2 separate regions of the Homo sapiens genome follow, and region 2 is linked to region 1. The links come from fine-mapping of genetic effects on gene expression. A gene starts in region 1. The other region holds a variant in brackets. All regions are shown on one strand. Distances are from middle to middle.

Evidence for each region. PIP is the estimated chance that this variant, and not a neighbour inherited with it, causes the effect.
Region 2: its variant is the best candidate, but not a certain one, in a credible set for the expression of MIGA1 in whole blood (INTERVAL, PIP 0.52).

What each region holds. Positions count from the first base shown.
Region 1 is chr1:77,776,624-77,782,003 of GRCh38, forward strand. It overlaps MIGA1 (mitoguardin 1), which reads left to right and starts at 3,026. Exons shown (of 16, transcript NM_001416120.1): 1 at 3,026-3,113. It also overlaps the pseudogene RNA5SP21. RefSeq lists an enhancer at 2,913-3,002.
Region 2 is chr1:77,737,222-77,742,566 of GRCh38, forward strand. It overlaps USP33 (ubiquitin specific peptidase 33), which reads right to left. Exons shown (of 24, transcript NM_201624.3): 2 at 4,396-4,527; 3 at 4,155-4,208; 4 at 3,656-3,718; 5 at 2,044-2,196. The coding sequence starts at 4,476. Among named protein-coding and RNA genes, the nearest start is that of USP33, 20 kb to the right of the region's middle. The variant T/C (reference allele first, on the strand shown) is at 3,039.

The DNA of each region.
Region 1 (5,380 bases):
AGCTTCTAAACATTTACAGTTAAGGGAACAGATTGATAATGTTTACTAAACAGACCCAGACTTGGGAGTGTCCTGATGTCCCTGATACCTTGAGAGCAAAAGCATTCCTAATTTTGCTTTAAAGATAATAATATTAATTCTTGCAAAATATGGTAATTAAGAAAATTAATCTTTTACCACAAACCCTCGTAGCAGAGCACATCTTCCCATGATCTTTTTTTTTTTAACTCCTCTATAAATGAATATTGTACCTAGAGTGGATGCATTCCTCTTCTTCCTTTTGGGAACGCCCTACTCTGTCTATAGAGTAAGTGGACATTCACCACTTCACTGTCTTAAACTTGCTTTTGCTTTGGACTGTGGACTTGCCCTGAATTCTTTCTTGTGCGAAATCCAAGCACCCTCTCTTGGGATCTGGATTGGTACCCCTTTCTGGTAACAACATTATGAAGCCTCCACAGAAATCCCTGAAGTACGGGGTTCTAAGAGCTTCTGAGTTGGTGAACACATCCATATCCCAAAAAGGTCATACACCCTGATTCCATGGGGACAGAAGTTCCTGCACTTAGGATCCTTCCAGATCTTGTTTTATGTACCTCTTCATCCGGCTGTTCATCTGTATCCTTTGTAATATCTTCTGTTATAAATCAATAGACTGGTTTGGGATGGGAGGAGAAGATTGTGGGAATTCCTGATTTATAGCTGGTTGGTCAGAAGTACAAGTGACAACCTGGGATTTGCAATTGGTATCTGAAGTGGGGGCAGTCTTGTAGGACTGAGCCCTTAAGGGTTTGGTGCATAGTATTGAATTAAATTTAACTGTACAACACCCAGTTGGTAGACACTAAATTAAAGAGTGGAGTTTATAATAAGAAATAATTGGAGACTTGTTTGGTGGGGAAAAACCTCCACACATTTGGAGTCAGAAGTGTTGAAACTACAGAAAAATAGCTTTGTGTTTCTTTTCCTTTAACAATGCATCTAGTAAGTGGCCAAGAAAGGATTCAAACCCAGGCAGTCTGACTTCACAGTTTTGTTTTGATATTATGCAGATAGGATCCCCTAAATTCATTAATGGTTGCTGTAGCATGTATTGCAGTACTTGTACAGAAGAAACAACTGGTAGTACTCCATGAACTCCATTCTCTGGTTTAGTGAGCATTACACGATGGCTTGGTTATCTGGGGGAGGTACTGGCCTTCAGAATTAATCCAGGCTCCAATTTTTTTTTCCTTGTCTCCAATATCAGAAGACATTGAGTCCCCTGTCCTTCTGGTTTAAACCACTACTTGTTTGGTTTTCTTTTACTTGTAGCGAATATGTTAACTAATATATCCAATAATGGCTAAGATTGAGTGCAGTACTCTGCCAAACCAGAAGAAGGGAGGCTTACAGCAAATTACATTTGGTTTATAAACATAAATTAAATGTGATATTTCTATTTTATATATTTTATTATTATTTTGTAGAAATGAGGGTCTTGCTATTGCCCAGGCTAATCTCGAACTTCTTACCTCAAGGGATCCTCCCTCATCGGCCCCACAAAGTGTTGGGATTACAGATGTGAGCCACCTCACTTGGCCTAAATGTGACATATCTTATTCTCATGCTAAAGAATAAACTCTGTACCCACCGTGTAATACTATTTTTCTCATAATGTTTATTGTGGAATTAAGGAGATAATATGGTCTCAGGAAAGTTGTGTTGAGTGGTAGTCATCATCATTACTGCTATTCTCATTACGTTGAATGTTTGGAAGCTGTGGGAAATGGGAAAGAGGAGGAAATTGGGAAAATAAATGAAAATAGCCTTACAAATTTCAGGTTCTTCAAGTCTCAAGAGCTCCATTTACCCTATAAGTGCAAAATATTTTCACATAAAACCCAGTCTGTGGATCGTTAGTTATTATTAATCTAATAATATCATAAATTGGTACTACTATTCTATTTTCCATTTGGTTAAATGGGAATTTTGAAAACAGAATTATTTTGGCTTTTCACCACAAATATGCTCAGCAACTGGAATTCTTAAATCTGCAGTTTTTTTGTTTTGTTTTGTTTTGTTTTGTTTTTTGTTTTGAGACAGAGTCTCACTCTAGTCACCCAGGTTGGGGTGCAGTAGCACTATCTGGGCTCACACAACCTCCGCCTCCCGGGTTCAAGCGATTTTCCTGCCTCAGCCTCCCGAGTAGCTGGGATTACAGGCAGGTGCCTGGCTAATTTTTGTACTTTTAGTAGAGATGGGGTTTCGCCATGTTGGCCAGGCTGGTCTTGAACTCCTGACCTCAAGTGATCTGCCCGCCTTGGCCCGCCAAAGTGCTGGGATTACAGGCTTCAGCCACCGTGCCCCGCCTAAATCTGCAGTTCTGATGGAATGTTTTGACTGAAGACTGAACGTAGAAACAGTACCTTGGGTTTTGTTGTTGTTATTTTTTCCTAACCCGGCCCCCTATTAGTTTACTATGTATTAGAACCTGAGAGAGGTGACTACTCTGCCAATAAATTGCCACATTCAATATTCTTCGGTTGCCTAATTCAGTGGGAAACACAGAAAAAAAGGTAAAGAGGACATGAAATCAATAATAAATGCATCATCTATACCGGATTGGAATGCCTCTTAACACTCATTCATCTGAGGGCTGAGGGCCTGTGGTAGAAGTTCTTAATCTTGTTTTCAGGGTTTTGAAATTGTGTAACTTTTTTTTCTTTAATGTAATGAGCATGTGTATACACATTTTTTTTTTTCCAGGGGAAACCCTCCATAATTTTTACCAGATTGACAACCGTTCTAGATCCCCCGACAGGTTACGAACTACAATACTAGTTTTTTTTTTTTTTTTTTACCGGTTTGTAAAAGGATGCAATTCTTCGAATATAGTTTTTGCATCCACTTGACGAGGAAGGAGCCTCTACCCTAAACAAAAATGGCGGGAGCTGCTTCACACGTAGTCCCTCACGCAGAAAGCCTGGAAGGCCCCCTCCACTTTCTCTCCACCTTCGCACTCCTGACCCCGGAAGGACTCCGCCTTCTCCATGTCAGACTGCTGCTCAGCGCCAGGCATCAGCTGGGAAGCTGGCGTGGGCAGGCCAGCTGTACCTGGCCTGGAGCTCCAGGTACAGGGCCAGGGGCGGGGTGGGGTGGAGAGGCGGGCGGGAGGAAGCGGAGAGTTGAGCGGCCACGCAGTTGGGGCAGAGGCCTCGGGGCAGGGGTGGCGCGGACTCCATCGCTGGCGTTAGCTCTCGGAGTGCCAGGTGGAGCGGCGGAAAGCCAGAGGGTCTACGGCCGTGCCACCCTGAACACCCCCGACCTCGTCTCATCTCAGAAGCTAAGCAGGGTCGGGCCTGGTTAGTACTTGCATAGGAAAGCAGGAGGGTCCCCACGCCAGAGGGAGGCCTGCAAAGGAAGCGCGGAATTGGGATGGGCTCGCCACTGCTCTGAGCCAGAGGAAGGGTCTGGACGGCCGAGCTGGAGGGACCCCCTTTTCTGGTGTTCTTGGCAAAGAAAAAGGAAGACAGCAGAGGAGAGCTCCGCGAGGGGCTGCTGTGGGGTCGGGGGAGAGCGCGCTGGAGGTAGGGCAGCTGGTGAGGTCTCAGGTTCGGCTTGGATGCGGGTGGTTTTGAGCAGGGAGTGGCTTTTGGATGTGAAAGATTACTCTGCTTTGCAGGTGCTTTAAGAGAATAATTTAGCACGGGAGTATTGTGGTGTCAGGTCCTTCTGTAAAGTTGTTAAATTATCTATTTTCCAGAGGGAAGACTCAGCTTGTTTTTGCACAGGACTTTGAAACCTTTATTATTGTTGTTTTATTGTTGTTGTTATTGCAGCTAAACATGTTTGCTCTGTTCAAAGTGTCAGAGTTAGGTTATATAGATTTGTGCTTCACGTCAATTTTCTTTTTGATACTTCAGACTTTCCTTCCTGTTGGATTATAAAGTCAAAGTTGCAGGATAGAATTTTAAGATGTCTAAGAAACTGTTTATGACACTTATTTTTAATTCCCCAGTAGTTGGAATGTAGAGGAGCAAGTAATATCACACAGGACAATATTTTTGGTTATGTTTTATAGATTCCGTCTATAAATTTGAATAATCATGAAACCCCCTTCATGTTTATTTTTATTATGCTTCTGAAAGCAAATGAAATGACTAGTTTTTTGTTTTTTTTTCTTTAGTTTTTCAATGAATAATGATTAGGTTTGGAATCAACTTCCTCAGTAATATTAAATGAAAAAGAATGAGGTAGTTAGAATGCAAAAATAGAGGTTTGTCATAATATTTTTTCTTTTTTCTTTTTTTTTTTTTTTTGAGGCGGAGTCTGGCTCTGTCGCCCAGGCTGGAGTGCAATGGCGTGATCTCTGCTCACTGCAACCTCCGCCCCTAGGGTTCTAGAAGTTCTCCTACCTCAGCCTTCCGAGTAGCTGGGATTACAGGCGCCCGACATCACTCCTGGCTAATTTTTTTGTATTTGTAGTAGAGATGGGGTTTCGCTATATTGGCCAGGCTGGTCTTGAACTCTTGACCTCAACTGATCCACCCACCTCGGCCTCCCAAAATGCTGGGATTACAGGCGTGAGCCACCACGCCTGGCCGAGGTTTGTCATAATCTTTTAAGAATATCTCTGCAGCCAATTAAAGTGTTTGCTTTATTTTCTTTCTATTCTGCTTAAAAATTTGGAATGCTCCATTATAGGGAAAATTACTTTGGGTGAATTACTCAATACGTTTTTTAAATGCAGTAGCATAGATTGCTTAATGATCCAGAATCTAATTAGTAAAAATGTTTCTCAAAATAAAATGTGTTAATATTTAGGGAGGGGGAAGAATAAATGAGCTTCCCCCCACTTCCTTTTTACTGTAGTAATATTAAAAAAGTAATACATGTAGGCAGGTTTTTAAAAATCAAGTATTACAAACAGACTTATAAGGAAAAGCAGTCATTCTTTGCCCAGCTTTTCTATATCCCTTGTCTTATTCTCCAGAGGACCATTTTTCACTTTCTTAACTGTTCATGGTTTCCTCTGTACTTTTTAATCATATGTCTCTATCACAGGTTGTTGACTGAAATAAATGTATGTCAAGTAGAACTAACTATACTGAATCTAAAAGTTGTACTTAGAACACTGGTAGGGGGGATTAAGTTTATACTGCTGTATCCCTAGTAAGGATTAAGGGAAGCATCAGTAGTAGTAACCCACCCTAAGAGGTATTGCTGTGTTTGATTTTAAAGGAAACCACTACTTAATCAGTGGTTTTGACACTTGTCTGAAAACAGGTGGGTATTAACAGAAGGGGATAGTCTATTGGAGTATAGAAAAAGAGAACATAGAAATGTATGCAGAAATGAAGGGCCTAAAAAAGTGTAGCAAATAATTTTTTTTTTTTTT
Region 2 (5,345 bases), 39 kb before region 1:
GTTCTCCAAGTTATTATAGCCTTACTTTACCTCTAAAATGCAGGCATATGCACTAATTCCCAACGATTTTACTTTCCTGACATCTGTAGAGACTGGACATTTGAGTGGACTTCATACTTTCATTTTGTTTTCATAAAGTAATTGCTTTTAAAAAGATACATGCTCACTACAAAATATCTAAATACACAGAAGTACAGAGGCTTAAATCACCTGAAATTTTACTATCTAGAAAAAATGTCTATTTGAAAAATCTTATTAATATTTGCATGGCCTCCAATATTTTACTATTTTGCAAATATCCTGTGGTAAACTGGATTTCAACAGCATATAAGTTTTGGACCACTAAAGAAATCTATCTGAACCACTGTTTTCTTCTGAATAATTTCTTCAACAATGGGATCATAAGGAAGTTGAATGAAATTAAGTTTATGCCTTTTATGTGTTAACATATTTACAAGTCATCAGAAAATTATTAACAAGCCATCAGGAAAGTATCAGTATACTTATTCTATCAGATTCAACATTTATTAAAGTTTGTAATCTTGATCTTTTCTGGCAGAAATGGCAACAGATAGCTTATTTAACTTACTTCTCTAGTAAGTGATGCTGATAGTTTTGCCTTTATATATTATTAGTTCCTTGTGTGATTAAACTTTAGTCATAACATTACACTTTTTTCTTTTTTAAAACTTTTTCTACTTATTACCATTCAGCTATCTTCAGTGGGACAAACTTTTGTTAATAATGTAAGAGGATTCAACGAAACGGCCATTTTCATACTATCTGGACTTTTGAAAAAGACTAAACATGTTTGTGAATGATAAATAGGTATAAGTGGGAGAAACAGTAATGGTTATAATTAACTAGAGCCATTCAACTGAGAAACTGAAAATGCAAGAAATTATTCTTTGACTAAAATCTAGCCATCTTTCATGTGTAAGGCAAGCAAATTTATTATCACAAATATCTACCATAAGAATGTGATACAAACATACAACAGAAAAACCTGACAGTTGGTATCAATGAACAAGTACAGAAATATGTGATTTCTATAACACACATGAGGAAAAAAACTTGCTGTTAATCAAATCTGATCAAATTCTGATCAACTGATGATCTGATTAAGAAGCCAACTATTCTAAGTTAATTTCCTTTTTCCTATTTTTCTATGACTTTAAGAATTCTGAAAATTAAGTGATAAATTCTGCAAGCAAACCCATGTGTTTTCTAAGTCTCTTGATCCAAAAGGAGAAAAATCTTTTTTTCTTTTTTTTTTTTAGATGGAGTCTCACTCTGTCACCTAGGCTGGAGTGCAGTGGCAAGGTCTCGGCTCACTGCCAGCTCTGCCTCCCAGGTTCACGCCATTCTCCTGCCTCAGCCTCCAAAGTAGCTGGGAATACAGGTGCCCGCCACCACACCCGGCTAATGTTTTGTATTTTTAGTAGAGACGGGGTGTCACCATGTTAGCCAGGATGGTCTCGATCTCCTGACCTCGTGATCCAGCCGCCTTGGCCTCCCAAAGCACTGGGATTACAGGCGTGAGCCACCGCACCCAGCCCAAAGGGAGAAAAATCTTTAACCCAAAGACTGATGCTAAGCTTTATTATATTCTACTTTGTTGTCAATAATAAGTAAAATGTTCACAGTAATACAAAGGGGATGGAGGGGAGGAGAGAACGGGGAAGAGAGCTGAATTAGTAACTGCCATATGCTATCAAAGAAGGCCCACCACCTTTCTTGAAATCAGACTTACCAGAAAAAGATAAAGACTACTTGAGTCATTTAAAAAAAAAAACTTCAAAAATTCATTAGGGCCTTTTCCATCTTCAAACAGGTGGGCTTCAATCTCACCCTAATCTAGCACTCTAAGCAACACAAGAAAGGGGAGTCTGAGTGCTTTATTTGAGAGAAAAAAGGCACATTACAGAAATTTTCAAAGTACAGGTTAGGCAGTATTCCTTTTGAAAATTTCAGCTACATGACAAATTCTGAAATTATTACCGGAATGTTTTACAGCTTAACTAAGTGGATCTAGATTATTACCTGGACACTGTTTTCTTGTATTTGGTGAGGTTGTCTTACATGAGGCAATGAAGGCTGAGTTCCTAATTTCCTATCCAAAAATACTTCTTTGCTGCAAGCATAACACCATACTCGAAGAGTGGTAAGGTTCACAGTTAGATAATGCTTTGTCTCCTATATAATTTCACAGTAGAGGGAAAAGAGGAACCAAAATTACATATACTTGAAAAGACTTCTTCAAAAGATAACAGAAGATAAACTGCTTGCCTTTGATGAGTAACAATATACTCAAAAGCTAATTTAGAACATGAAAAAAATTCTTTAGATAAACTTCTAAGGTATAATAAACAGTAACAACATCTAAGCCTACTCTAGAAATTACTCTGCCATTCTCCCCTCACTATTCATTATACAAAAAGATAAACGCAAGAGTGTAAGACCTTGCTTTGCAGTCTACAAATAAATATAACACAAGAAAATAATTAACAATAGCAAGTAACTATTCTAAGAAATCAGAATGGCAAAAGAACACAAATGACATGAGTCAAGGCATAAAACAGCTCTAGCAATACAGAATATATAATCTTGGAAAGATAAAAGTCTAGCCTTTCACAACCAGAGTTCTGCTACAGAATTAAGCCCTACAAAAAATGATCTGAGTGACTAATTTATCAATTCTCCCAATGGTGGTACACAGCAAATACCATCTTAGATGCACAGAAAGAGGCAAATGATATACAATGATGACTCAGAGCTTGGGTATTCAGGCTTAATTAATTCTATAGAGGAATCCTGGTTGAGAACAGTTGATGCTGTAGAGGTATCAATGTGCATCTTAAAACAAAGTCATTCGAGAAACTTTCCATTTAGAATGGGAGCTCTACATAACACTATAGAAGAGGCATGCCAGAGTTACATGGGAAGTACCAAACAACCAGAGCAAAGCAGAAAGGTGAGTCCAGTTAGGACTATGTGCAGGAAAAGGCAATATGACATGAGCTGAGACTTAAAGAAGT[T/C]AGCCAGGCCATGTCATAAACCTAAGCACCCACTCTCTCTTGGGCTTCAACCTCCTAATATGCCAGCTATCACCTTCAAATATCTGGATATACACTTTTTTTTTTTTTTTTGAGATGGAGTTTCGCTCTTGTTGCCCAGGCTGGAGTGCAATGGCACGATCTCGGCTCACTGCAACCTCCGCCTCCCAGGTTCAAACAATTCTCCTGCCTCAGCCTCCCGAGTAGCTGGGATTACAGGTGCCCACCACCACACCCAGCTAATTTTTTTGTACTTTTAATAGAGACAGGGTTTCGCCATGTTGGCCAGGCTGGTCTCGAACTCCTGACCTCAGGTGATCCACCTGCCTTGGCCTTCCAAAGTGCTGGGATTCAGGCGTGAGCCACCATGCCTGGCCGGATGTACACTTTTGAAATCAGTGCTTTCTTAATCACAACCTCATTCTAATGTTCATCCTCCTAGCAATTCCCTTCCCCATCCTTCACAGAGAATGTAAGTGAAGTTTTAACTTAGAGTGCAAATTTGAATTACAACTTGAATTAATAATGTTATACTGGCTTTCCCTTTCCTTCAGGCACTTTTTTTAACAAGTCTTCCATTAAATTTTTTATATACATACCTGAGAATGTATGGTGCTGTGATCTACTTGTGATTCACCACAGCCAACATATGAACATCTATTCTATAAATAATTATATAGGAAGAAAAATAAGGTACTTTATAATATACATGTAAATTTATAACAGCATTACAATTACATTTACAATTAAGTTTGGATTACCTGTTTTACATTCAATGAGTAAATGACTTTCCAGTCATTAAATTTAACCAAATGTTTCCAGGCACAAAATAAAACCAGGATATATTTCTAAGCTAAAAGCTATGTCATTTCTAATAAAAGGCAAGCATAAAATAGCTGAGTGATTTACTAAAAACTACAAAAGCACTACAGATTAAGATCTTTCCAAAGTTTAATTTTTGTTATTAATAATGACCTTTTAAAAGCAAGTTTAATTTACAAAAATCACTTTAAGTATCAAAAATTTTCTGGTTATGATTATTCAGATCCAAATTTATTATTATTATAGCAATCTTTTCAGGAAAAAACATATACACACCTCCAGACATGCCCAAAGATTTGGTCCTTGGACTTTACAATCCTGACAAGTACCCTATAAAAAGAAATTAAAAAGACAACATTGGTTATATTGACACAAACACATACAATTCACTAATGCACTAATGACATCATACATATTTTTAAAATACTGCTCATAGAGTATTACAGTAATTTATGAAAATTACACATTCAAGAGAAAAGTGAATAGTTTTTCAAGGAAGAAAAAACCTGTTTCTTACAAGGGATTTTTGTATCAAATCTTCTTTTGTTATTTCACCAACTGAATCCAAATGTGGACAATGATTTCGAAAAGCTGACATTTTGTTAGGAATTTTTTCCTGTTTCCCAAGACTTTCAAAATGAGGTAACACCTATAAGAAAAGTAACACACACAAAAAAATTAATAAATGCTTACAATGCCTGCAAAGATTCCAAAAAATAAAAAAATTAAAATGTTAACATATTAAAAATGATTAAAAGATAACATAAGAATGATATAAGTTTGCCCTGTAAAAAGAGTGTATTCTCAAACATAGATGAGTTTTCAGAATTGAAGTTAATCTGAACACTGGAAATTTCTCTACTACATAAACATTTTATTAAAATTGACATCTATAAACAAATGTAAGTTTGTTTCTCCATGACTTTTGCTGCTTTTCCCCTCTCATTTCACTTTTTATAGATAAATAAAAGGGGGGAATATTCAAGTTATTCAACTGTGAAGCACTTTTATCCTTTTAAAAAAAAAATTAATCCTTAGGCTGGACTAGGAGTTGAAAAAAAAAAACTTCAAGTAGAAAGCTTCATTTTTCTACTAATAGGACCCCCTACTGATGGCATAAATTAAATCATCTGGTATCCTGGCCTTATACCAGGATAAGCACTTTATATCAGGGTTTCTCGATCCCGGCACTATTGACACTTAGGGCCAGATAATTCTTCGCTGTGAGGGATTGTCCTGTGCACTGCAGGTTATTTGGCAACATTCCCACTTCTATCCACAAGAGACAGACAGACCATCCCTGCCACCACTCTGAACTCTGATGACCAGTGTCTCTAGACTGTTTTAAATTATACCCTCTGGGGGACAAAATCTCTCCAGGTTTGAGAACCCCATTTTCATGATCTTTACAACCCCTGAAATAGGCACCATTATTAGCTTCATTTGCACATAAGGCTAAGAGATGCA